Regions from separate parts of the Homo sapiens genome. Here region 2 is linked to region 1. Evidence: fine-mapped expression QTL. A gene starts in region 1. The other region holds a variant in brackets. All regions are shown on one strand. Distances are between the middles of the regions. Region 1 holds the start of ADAMTSL1 (ADAMTS like 1). Region 2 overlaps ADAMTSL1 (ADAMTS like 1).

Region 1 (5,388 bases):
ACATTACTTTTCCTAGGTGCTGAAAACGTTTTAGAAATGAGAAAGTCAAGACACATAGAAGCTGGAGGCTAAAATAAGATACTTTCCATCGTCAGGTAACATATACCCATGGTAAACCCTGGTAGCCTACTTTCCTTTTCCTATAAACATCCCCCTTCAACAACATCACTGCCAACATCTGAATATATGTATGTGTATACATCATATATAGATATAATGCATATATATGAATATGAGATGAGGGTGGATTTAGATTCGGTAAACCGTGGCTCAATGGCCAGTTCTAGCCAGCAAAGCTTTAGTCAAGTCACTTAACTTCTCTGAGCCTCAGTTTCCACGTACATAAAATGGGGTGATTACTTAATTTCAAAAAGTAGTCACAAAGGTCAAATGAGATCATAAATGTAAAATCACTTTGTAAACCATAAAGATGGCATGTACATTTTGGCCATCATCAAAATTAGTTCATGACCAAAACTTTTCCCAGTCACCTTAACCCAACTTGATTTTGTTCTCCCTTTTCTGAAGTTATAGTAAATTTGTAATTTCACCTGTACTGTGTAGCTCTGGATGTGCAATTGCTTTTCCTAGTTTCTCTGGGTATTCCCAAGAGGAAAGAAAATGCTGTGAGGAATCAGAAGCATGAGACAGTGTGGTGGGCATCCTCCAGGCATTCAACAGGTGATTGAGGGCTTAACTTTAAAATAGTATATTATTCGGTGACTTCATTGAGATGACCATCTTGCTGTACATTAGCATGCCCATTAAAACTTCAAGGCAGAAATTTCTGACTCAAAATACCTAGGCAGTATTTATTTGCAAAGCAGAAAAGAATCTAAACTAGCATGTAAGTGGTTCCCAGTTATTTTCTGACCATGCTGATTATTTTTCTGTTCCTCTACAAATAGTATCTCATCATTAGCTTTGTTGCTACTTTTCTTTCTCCCATTACCTATTCTTCCCTTTGGATCTGCTTAATGAGCAGGGTTTATGTGTGAAGAGGGAGGAGGTGGTATTAGGTAAAATGTTCCATTAATAGAACTAGCTGAAACTCTTCAGTTAATGACTGTGATAGGAGGGAAAAAAATAAACCCTTTAGCAGAAAGCTCTGGTGTGTAACAGAGAGACACATGTAACATAGCTTTATGAATGAAAGTTTATTTCAATCAATCACCTTTCTTTAATGTGATGAGGATTTCAGACAAAAACAATAGTGGAAAGACAAAGTTAAGCATTTTTACATCTACTTGTGAATACGCTTTAGCTTATGAGCATTAGCTAGTTTTTGAGAGATTTGTAAAACAAATCTTTCTAAAAGGGAAAAGCATATTTCAAGAATGGGCTCTCTTTGTTATGGATTTGTACTGTCCATTTTTCTAGGTCCACATACTTAATATTGAGAACAAAGGATAATCTTTGTATGACCTTGACTTTCCTAACAGCATGAAAATAGGATTTTTAAAGTTTCTCTCTCTTTAATTGATATACCATATGAAGTAGGTAACCTAAAGTTGAACAACCTGCTTTTCTTCACCTTTTTGAAAAGCAACGCAGCAGGTATGTACATAGGCAGACCTGCCTGTATTCACATGCCCATTATGGCTTGATCAGGTTTTCCATATTCGTGTGTTTCATACCTCTTGTCAGTATTTTTTAATAATGAAAGGAAAGAACATTAATTCTAAATGTCTTGTACCTCCACTGCATATATTTCTGGGCTATCAGGAGATCTGAAAAGGGAAAACGTCCTGATGACACACCTATGGCAATGTAAGGCCAGGGCTGCTCTTTTATTCTTTCAAAACTCAATGATTTCCTTTGCAGATAAGGGGAAATACATCCTTGTTTGACATTTGACACTTTTCTAAAACTGTAATAAAACCTTCCTCTAGTAGAGTCAAATCTCCCTTGCTGGTGGATTAAGCAGCTTCAGAAGCTTCCTGACCTTCTCGTTGCTGTTGCTGGCCTTGTCGTCATTTCACTGCTCATTAGCACTTCCTTCAGGGCTGGACTGGCCTCCAAGGTCATCCCATCCAACCCTCTTGCAATAGTGGATGGAAAAATGAGGTAAAACTCAGTTCAGCCTTTTCTGCATTATAACAGCTCTGATAAAGGACGTGGGTGAGGTGCGGAGGAAGCTGAAACTTGGTTAAAAGAAGGTTTGGGGATTAACTGAGGATTTAATTCATCCTTTCTTTCTCTCCCGTGGCTAAAATAGATAGTTGAGAGTTGGCAGTGCATCAAAACCAGGCTGCTCCTCAACCCCAAATTTCAGCCCCACTCATCCTGGAGTCTTTGTTGAGGGTTTCTTTTTAAACTGGGGGATCTAAGTTTCTAATTGTGCCTTTACAATTAGCAAATCTTAAATGCCTTCAATTGTCACTTTACAGAGAAGCAACTTGCTTTGTTTTTTTCCCCCCAAATTAAGTCCTTAATAACACAAAATAACTTATGCCACTGTTTAGGCTTAGTGAGGAACCTTCAGAAAATGTATAGAGTATTTATTTTGCAAGTCAAGAGAGAAAGTAAAGAGGAACTTTATGGAGGCGAAATAAAACAGTTGTACAGAACACATTTACAGGGCACATTAAGTCGGTTTTTGTCTATGGTTCTTTCCCTTTATGGCATATGTTATATATTGACAGGGATTAAGTTTCTCTCCTGAATGGAACAATACACAGTCACAGGGAGCTACTGTACTTTACAAAGCAACAGACATCAGCACAGGCAAATGGCAAATAGAAATGCATCTCACAAAGAACTAACCAGGTCCATGGGAAGCACAGTGCTTGGCTTCATCTTTTGCAATTCTGCATCTTTTGCATTTCCCTTCTCGCTCTGCTGCTCGCTCGCCTTTCTTTTTCGTCCTTTTCCCCCTTTTTTGCTCGCACCGTTACACTTTCTCTGTCCTCCTGGCTTTGTTATTCAGCATGTCTGATTAGCAGGAGCCTGATTGGCTGGCTGCCTGCTCCGAGAGAGATTCCATTCAGCTTACCCCCCACCCATCCACCCACCCACCCCTCGGTCAGGAAATGTGAGAGGGGCTGATGGAAGCTGATAGGCAGGACTGGAGTGTTAGCACCAGTACTGGATGTGACAGCAGGCAGAGGAGCACTTAGCAGCTTATTCAGTGTCCGATTCTGATTCCGGCAAGGATCCAAGCATGGAATGCTGCCGTCGGGCAACTCCTGGCACACTGCTCCTCTTTCTGGCTTTCCTGCTCCTGGTAAATGCCTTTTCATTTCAATGCATTGCTATTGCCATTGAGTCTGGGTGCTGTTGGGGGTGTGTGTGTGTATGTGTGTTTGTGTGTGTGTGTGTGTCTTTATCTTAAAACTCCAGGTAAAATAATTTACACGATTACAAAGAGAGAATACTCCTTCTAGAACTTTTAACCTCAACTTCCCAAGCAAGATAAAGTCTGCAAGACTTTCTGGAATTAGTTACTGCTATACAGTAATACTGATACTGAGACATGAACTTTGGGACATACTGCATGGAGTTTGGGAGCTGAGGACTGTATATATGGTGGTGTGTATGCTTGGAATTTGGATAACAGACATCCTGAAATTAAACTCACTCACTGTGGTGTTCCTGGAATTTTTTGATGGATAGGCTTTGCAGAGCTTGCCCGTACCGCCTTTAATGAATTACTTTCCATCTATGCACATGTACTATGGAACCAGGTAAAGAGGGGAATGAGAGCCTCTTTGCAGCCAACCCAGATTATGGCTCTTAATTACTGCAAGTCATTTATGGATAGAAGTTAATGCTAGGATTTATGAATTGAGGATTATGGCCTTTGATCTCAAATTTACTTTTAAAGAAGAAAAAGGAATGGTGACTTTTAGTACGGCTGATTGCCACAGTCATAGTGATAAGATGCTCTGCTCTTGAACGTCAGTACACATTGCATTTTTGACTCGAAGTAAATGTTCCGTTGTGACTCATACTTGGTTTTATGGGCAGAAAATGAACATTTACTGTCCAAAATAAATCTACACTCAAAATATTAATAGCAATGCACATTTTTTAAACCAGAGTGTTCTGGGCAGGCAGCTTAGTAAACCTCATCTGAAGGTTTGATTCCAAAATTTGCACACACTGATCCAAACAAATGTGATTGTAGTTTTTCCTGTCACATTTATAACATGCCAGAACTTCCTCAGAAGGTAACAAGGCAGGAAGAGAACAAGGTAAAAATGTAGCAAATGAATAGGTTGCATTGATTCCTTGATGGGGAAGGAATGTTTGTTCTGATTATATTCTGACAAATCTGATCTGCGCTATAATTTTGAAGTAGGGAAGAAAGCCATTTGGTACAAACTGAAAAAGTCCAGGAGATTCATCAAATAGAGTAATCAGACAGTGATTCAATATTTTATACATTCCCACTTCTTAATGATTTGCATCATTGTAGCTAAGAAATTATAATGCTGCATTGCAAGTGCTATAAATATAGAAATAAATTTTTAATTTTTCATAGAAATTTAAAGGTAAACTACATTTCAAGCATGAATGAACTATAAGTTTTAGCTGTTCTGAAAAATACAAAGAACAGAATGTTTAGGTATGCTTTATGACTTGTGGAGCAAGCGATTTATGAAAGGTGTCTCATTTTTTCCATATGGGATGTGTTACTTGTATACACCATTAGTTTGTCTCATCTTTCCTTCTTTGTGATTTTTTTAAGTGTGTGTTATTTTCCCATTATATTGCATCATAAAGCAAATTACCAGTATACATTACTTTTTTGATATTTTCATATGGAAGTATGATCTCATTATACTTTAGTAAAACTTTCCCATTCAGGAATAGATTGTTTTGCTATCCATTTGGTAAACGCATTATATCCCTCTGTGATATCTTGAATATTCATATATGTATTAGAGCATATAATTTGACTTATGTGGAATGAAAAGGTATGTATGCTTATTTCAGAAGGACTTAAAACATATCATATTTAAATTACAATAATTGTATTATAAAGATAAAATTAAAACAAACCTAGGTTTGTTTTATGCCTGCATTTAAATTAAGTGGAAATCTGAGAGTTATGCTACAAAAGGAAGAACTGACTGATGTTTACATACATCCCTTTGCCAAGCAATAACAGCATTAGTAATAGCTGTCATGTATTTTGTGTCTGAATGTGGCTAGTTGTTTGAAAATCATTACAATAAATCCTTACAATAATCATACAGATAAGACATTTTAAACCCGTTTTTTCAGGCAATGAAATAAGCTTGCATTTGAACCCAAAGGTCAAATAATGGAGAGAATAGAACATGTTTGCTTCGTATGGTGGTTGTAAATATTTAAGAACAATGAAAACAGTGGTGCAGGTTGGTCTGTACCCTTTGTTGCAGATATTTAGGCTTTCTGCAT
Region 2 (5,388 bases), 230 kb after region 1:
AAGGGTACAATCATAAGTCTCATGAAAATATAAAATAATCACATGTCAAAAATATTATTATTATTATTATTATTATTATTATTTTGAGATGGAGTCTTGCTTTGTCGCCAGGCTGGAGTGCAGTGGTGTGATCTCAGCTCACTGCAAACTCCACCTCCCGGGTTCAAGTCATTCTCCTGCCTCAGCCTCCCAAGTAGCTGGGATTACAGGTGTGTGCCGCCACACCCAGCTAATTTTTGTATTTTTTTTTAGTAGAGACGAGGTTTCACCATGTTGGCCAGGATGGTCTTCATCTCTTGACCTCGTGATCTGCCCACCTCAGCCCCCCCAAGTGCTGGGATTACAGGTGTGAGCCACCGTGCCTGGCCAAAAATTTTATTTAACTCACAAATTATTGAGGAAGCCAATGTGATGTTAAAACTAGTTCAAATGAGAATTTGATTTAGAATAAAGTATATATTTTCTACCAGACAAAACCATTTGCAGTGCCATGAACAGAAAAATACATATATTATTATGGACAAGAAACATCTGTATCACCACCAGACCTCTACAGGGAAACTTCTATCTCTATGGAGTTGCAAAACAGACTAGCAAAGACCATCAAAGGCTCCTAATTCCATAGAACAAGACCACCCCTGGAAATTTGCTAGAAAATGCCAGCAGTTCGTTGAAAAGACAACCAGTAATCTCTTTTGCCTATTTCAAAATGTTTCCAACAGTACCCATCTCCCAACAATGTCATAATGAGTTGTATATGTAAAATGCATAAAGCATGTAAGTGTAATGTTCACTTATTATTGCTATATTAAGGTGGTGGTAATGGAAATGGAGAGAAGTAAATGAGTTTATATATATTTTCAAGGGAGAATTTAGAGAATTCGGCAATCAGTTGAAAGTGAGATGTGAAGGAAATTGAGGGGTCAAGAATAACTCCTGATTTTTTACTTGAGCAATTAGGTAGCCATTAAAATCCTTTGCTGTGGTGGAGAAGATTGGAAGACGATAGGGTTACTGAAGGGAGAAATCAGGAGTTCCATTATGGACATTTTAAGTTGGAGATTGAAGCTGCCTTTGAAACTTAAAAGCAAAAATGTCAAGAAGGAAAAAATAGCAATGTGAAGTAGTTAAGAGCACAAAACCTTACTAGTTGTGTAACTTATGCTTCAGTTTCCTCATCGGTCTATTAAATGGTAATAATAATAGTTTTATCTGATAATGTTCTTGTTCAGATTTAATAACTTTTATTTATAAAGCACTTAGAGTAGTGCCTGGCACATAAGAAACACTAAATAAGTTTTTGATAAATACATTAATTAAATTAATGTTTACTTTTTTCAGAGAAGAAAGTTCTAGAATAGAGATTAAATTCTTAGAAGCTTCATGTACACTGATGGTATTTGAAACTAGGAATCATTGATGAACACATTGGAAGATAGCACAAAGCCAAGTCCTGAGGCACTGCAATATTTTAATTTTTTTTTTGAGACAGAGTCTTGCTCTGTCACCTAGGCTGGAGTGCAGTGGCATGATGATCTCGGCTCACTGCAACCTCCACCTCCTGAGTTCAAGTGATTCTCCTGCCTCAGTCTCCCAAGTAGCTTGGGCTTGCAGGTGTATGCCACCATGCCTGGCTAATTTTTTGTATTTTTAGTAGAGATGAGGTTTCACCATGTTGGCCAGGCTGGTCTTGAACTCCCGACCTCAAGTGATCTGCCAGCCTCGGCCTCCCAAAGTACTGGAATTACAAAAGTAAGCCACCATGCCTGGACTGTGCCACTGCACTCAGCCAATATTTTGAATTTGAGAATAGAAGGACCTAGAAAAGGAGACTGAGAAGGAAGTAACCAGAGAAGAAAACCAAGAGAGTTTGGTGTCATGTAATTCAAGAGGAAGAAGTATTTCAAGAAGAAGTACTTGCAAGCAATGGTCAATTATTTTGAATGCCATTGGAAATGAGACAGAATGAGGATTAGATTTGTTAAGAATAGCAGACAGTAAGGCCTGTGTTCTTAGAACCTGATACCAATCTTCCCCCTGGCCTTTTTCTTACTGTTAAAGAAAAGCAGCCTCCTGATGGTCAGTGGGACCCTCCGTTAGTAAGACTCCTTATAATGTCTTGTCTAGAACCATATCAGAGAAAAGAGAAGGCAGAACTTCAAGATGACTTCAACAAAGTGCTCAAACATCAAGATCCCAGGCTTTGAAAGAGCCAGTAGTCTCTGGATGAATTGGAACTTTCAGAGAACTCAGCCCCTGCAACATTTTCCTCTAGCATAAAGTCTCTTTGAAAGGAAAATGTGCTCTTTAATGCAGTCAGCATTTTGTTTTTTAACCCAACTTCCATCACTGAGCATTTTCTGCAAGAAAGACATTCAGGCATTCTTGCAGAGAGGCCAGCTGCCTCTCAACCCAAAAGAGCGTCA[T/C]TGTCATGAGAAAAAGTCTGTTTGTTACTTGGAAAATGCCTGTAAATATAGCTTTTCCATGTGTTTTGCTGGGTTTTTTACTTTTTTTTTTTTTTTTTTTTGAGAGACTGGGTCTTTCTTTGTAGCCCAGGCTAGAGTGCGGTGGCACAATCAGAGCTCACTGTAACCTTGAACTCCTGGGTGCAAGAGATCCTCCCACCTTAGCCTTCCTGGTCACTGGGACTACAGGTGTGTGCTACCAGACTCAGCTAACTTATTATAATTATTATTGGTAGACATGGGGTCTTGCTATATTGCCCAGGCTGGTCTCAAACTCTTGGCCTCAAGTGATCTTCCTGCCTTGGCCTCCAAAAATGCTGGGATTACAAGTGTGAGCCATAGTGCCTGGCCACTTTAATATGTTTTTTAAATTAAGTTCTTCTGTCAAATTATTACTGGTTAGCAATATTAGACAGGGACACTCAATCTTTTTCTTTTCAAGTAGTTGTATTGGTGGCTGCTTCAAAATTATCATTTGTTTTATTTTAATTTCCAGGATCATTATATTTTTGATTATTCTCCTGGGGCACCTTACAGTGCTGAAGATGCCTCATAGCCTAGGCTTGACACTTGAGGATTTGAGAAATCTATGAAAAGAAGTGGTGCTGTCAGATGTTTTGAGGAGTGATGTCCTAGAACCTTTGAAAAATTTTGCTTAGAGACCTCAATATGAGTTGCATAACTAGCATGATTTATTTGCAGTTCCAGAGAATTGTAAACAACAGCAGTTGAGAAATATTTTCATAATTCCACATTCAGATTAAATATCCTTGAGTAAAGATATTTCCTAATAAGTTAGATTCTCATTTATGTGGAATGATTTAGGCGTGGTTCTAAGTAAATTTAGAGGGATATTTTGGATAAGTATTATCTCAAAACTTTAATGCTCCAGCTATATTTTAAGAATGCCTTAATATTATAGATTTTACAAGTAATTTTAAAATTCCTAAAGTGATTCAATTGAAGAGTTTCCCTTCCATTATAGCATTCCAAATGGTGTTTGCTTACTTATTTTAGAGGGTTTATTTAAAACTTTTTTTTGACATCATTGAGAGGCATTAAATAACTAAAGAGTTTTTACACGAGATCTTCTCATCTCATGTAAAAATGGGAAGTAGATAAGAGTAGAAATACAAAGAAGGTGTTTCCTTTTCTCTCTTCCAAGTTTCTTTCTCATCCAGTAGTAATTTTTTCCCTATTTATCCAAAAGCCTCTTCAGATGCCAAAATGTGCAGCTTAGGTTTAGTTAACTGCACTTTATCCTAAGGTTTTTACTCCATTAATGTCTCAAGGATTGCCCAGAATCAGGGGAAGGATCAACTTTTCAAAGTTTAAAAAATATATATAAGAATGAAGATTGGGTTAAAAAATGATGAGGCAATATGGAATTACATATTTTACCAGTAAAGTATGTAAATTTTTTGGTCCTAAATAACATATTTATGGAAAAGACTTGATTCAGAGTAGAATTACTTATGACATATTTTCTTTTTCCAATATACTATTTTCCAGATCCCTCTGTGGCCACTTGTTAATGATAAGATTTTTAAAAGGGAAAATCCATGATTCTCATGTAAATATAAAATGAACATCTGACAAAGATTTAACCTACCTCATTAACCAATGAGGGAACCAATAAGATGTTACAGCCAATTCAAAGGAAGTTTAAAAACCCTATTTATTTAGGCAAATATGAATGCCCAAATGAATTTACAAATAGATGCAAAATTGGTCTAGCTACAGGGCAACAATCAACTGCATTCCACTAGACACAGTTAATCTGTATTTCTCTGGGCAGGAATCATTTGCACTATCAATTTCTTGCCACTTAGAGGGTGGTAAAATATAATAGCTCAAAGTCAATGAAAGGCTAAGACAACCTAGGAAGAATGCACTTAACAGAGTTATCCAGTAATCAGTAATCTTTTGGGTTCTTTTTTTTTTTTTTTTTTTTTTGAGACAGAGTCTCACTCTGTCACCCAGCAGGCTGGAATACAGTAGCAAGATCTCAGCTCACTGCAACCTCCACCTCCCGGGTTCAAGCAATTCTCCTGCCTCAGCCTCCTGAATAGCTGGGATCACAGGCTCACACCACCACACCTGGCCAATTTCTGTATTTTTAGTAGAGACAGGGTTTCGCCATGTTGGCCAGGTTGGTCTCAAACTCCTGACTTCAGGCGATCCGCCCACCTCAGCCTCCCAAAGTGCTGAGATTACAGGCATGAGCCACTGTGCCCGATTTTAAACTCTAATTTTTCTCACATATTATTCAGTTTATTCCCTTCTCTTTTCTCACCCTACTGTCATGCCACCACTCACATACACAAACATACACCAAATCAAACAGGTAAAGAGAAATCCACAACCTCTATTGGCTCATGGCTTGAAATGTAATAAGATTGAAAACCTATACCTAAATTGAGTATTTTTAATGAGACTTCCTGCATGTTTCAATTTGCATTTTTAAATTAGGGCATGAAACTAGTGATAGCATCAAAATAAGACACCTATAAAGCTGTTTTTATTTTTAATAATCCCAATGATTTTTAAAACAAACATATATGAGAAAGGAAGAGAGAGGAAAGTAATAGGATAAAAGGAAAAGTTAATTTTCACATTGTATTACTCCATTTTCACATTGCTGAAAAGACATCTCTGAGACTGGGCAATTTACAAAAGAAAGAGGTTTAATTGGACTTACAGTTCCATGTGGCTGGGGAGGCCTCACAATCATGGTGGAAGGCAAGGAGGAGCAAGTCACATCTTACATGGATAGCGGCAGGCAAAAAAGAGAGCTCGTGCAGAGAAACTCCCACTTTTAAAACCATCAGATCTCATGAGACACATTCACTGTCATGAGAACAGCACAGGAAAGACCCGCCCCCATGATTCAATCATCTCCCATCAGGTCCCTCCCACAACA

What was found. PIP is the estimated chance that this variant, and not a neighbour inherited with it, causes the effect.
Region 2: its variant is the best candidate, but not a certain one, in a credible set for the expression of ADAMTSL1 in tibial nerve (GTEx, PIP 0.73).

Annotation. Positions count from the first base shown.
Region 1 is chr9:18,471,070-18,476,457 of GRCh38, forward strand. It overlaps ADAMTSL1 (ADAMTS like 1), which reads left to right and starts at 3,084. Exons shown (of 29, transcript NM_001040272.6): 1 at 3,084-3,226. The coding sequence starts at 3,164.
Region 2 is chr9:18,696,814-18,702,201 of GRCh38, forward strand. All of the region lies in intron 13 of ADAMTSL1 (ADAMTS like 1), which reads left to right. Among named protein-coding and RNA genes, the nearest start is that of MIR3152, 130 kb to the left of the region's middle. The variant T/C (reference allele first, on the strand shown) is at 2,427.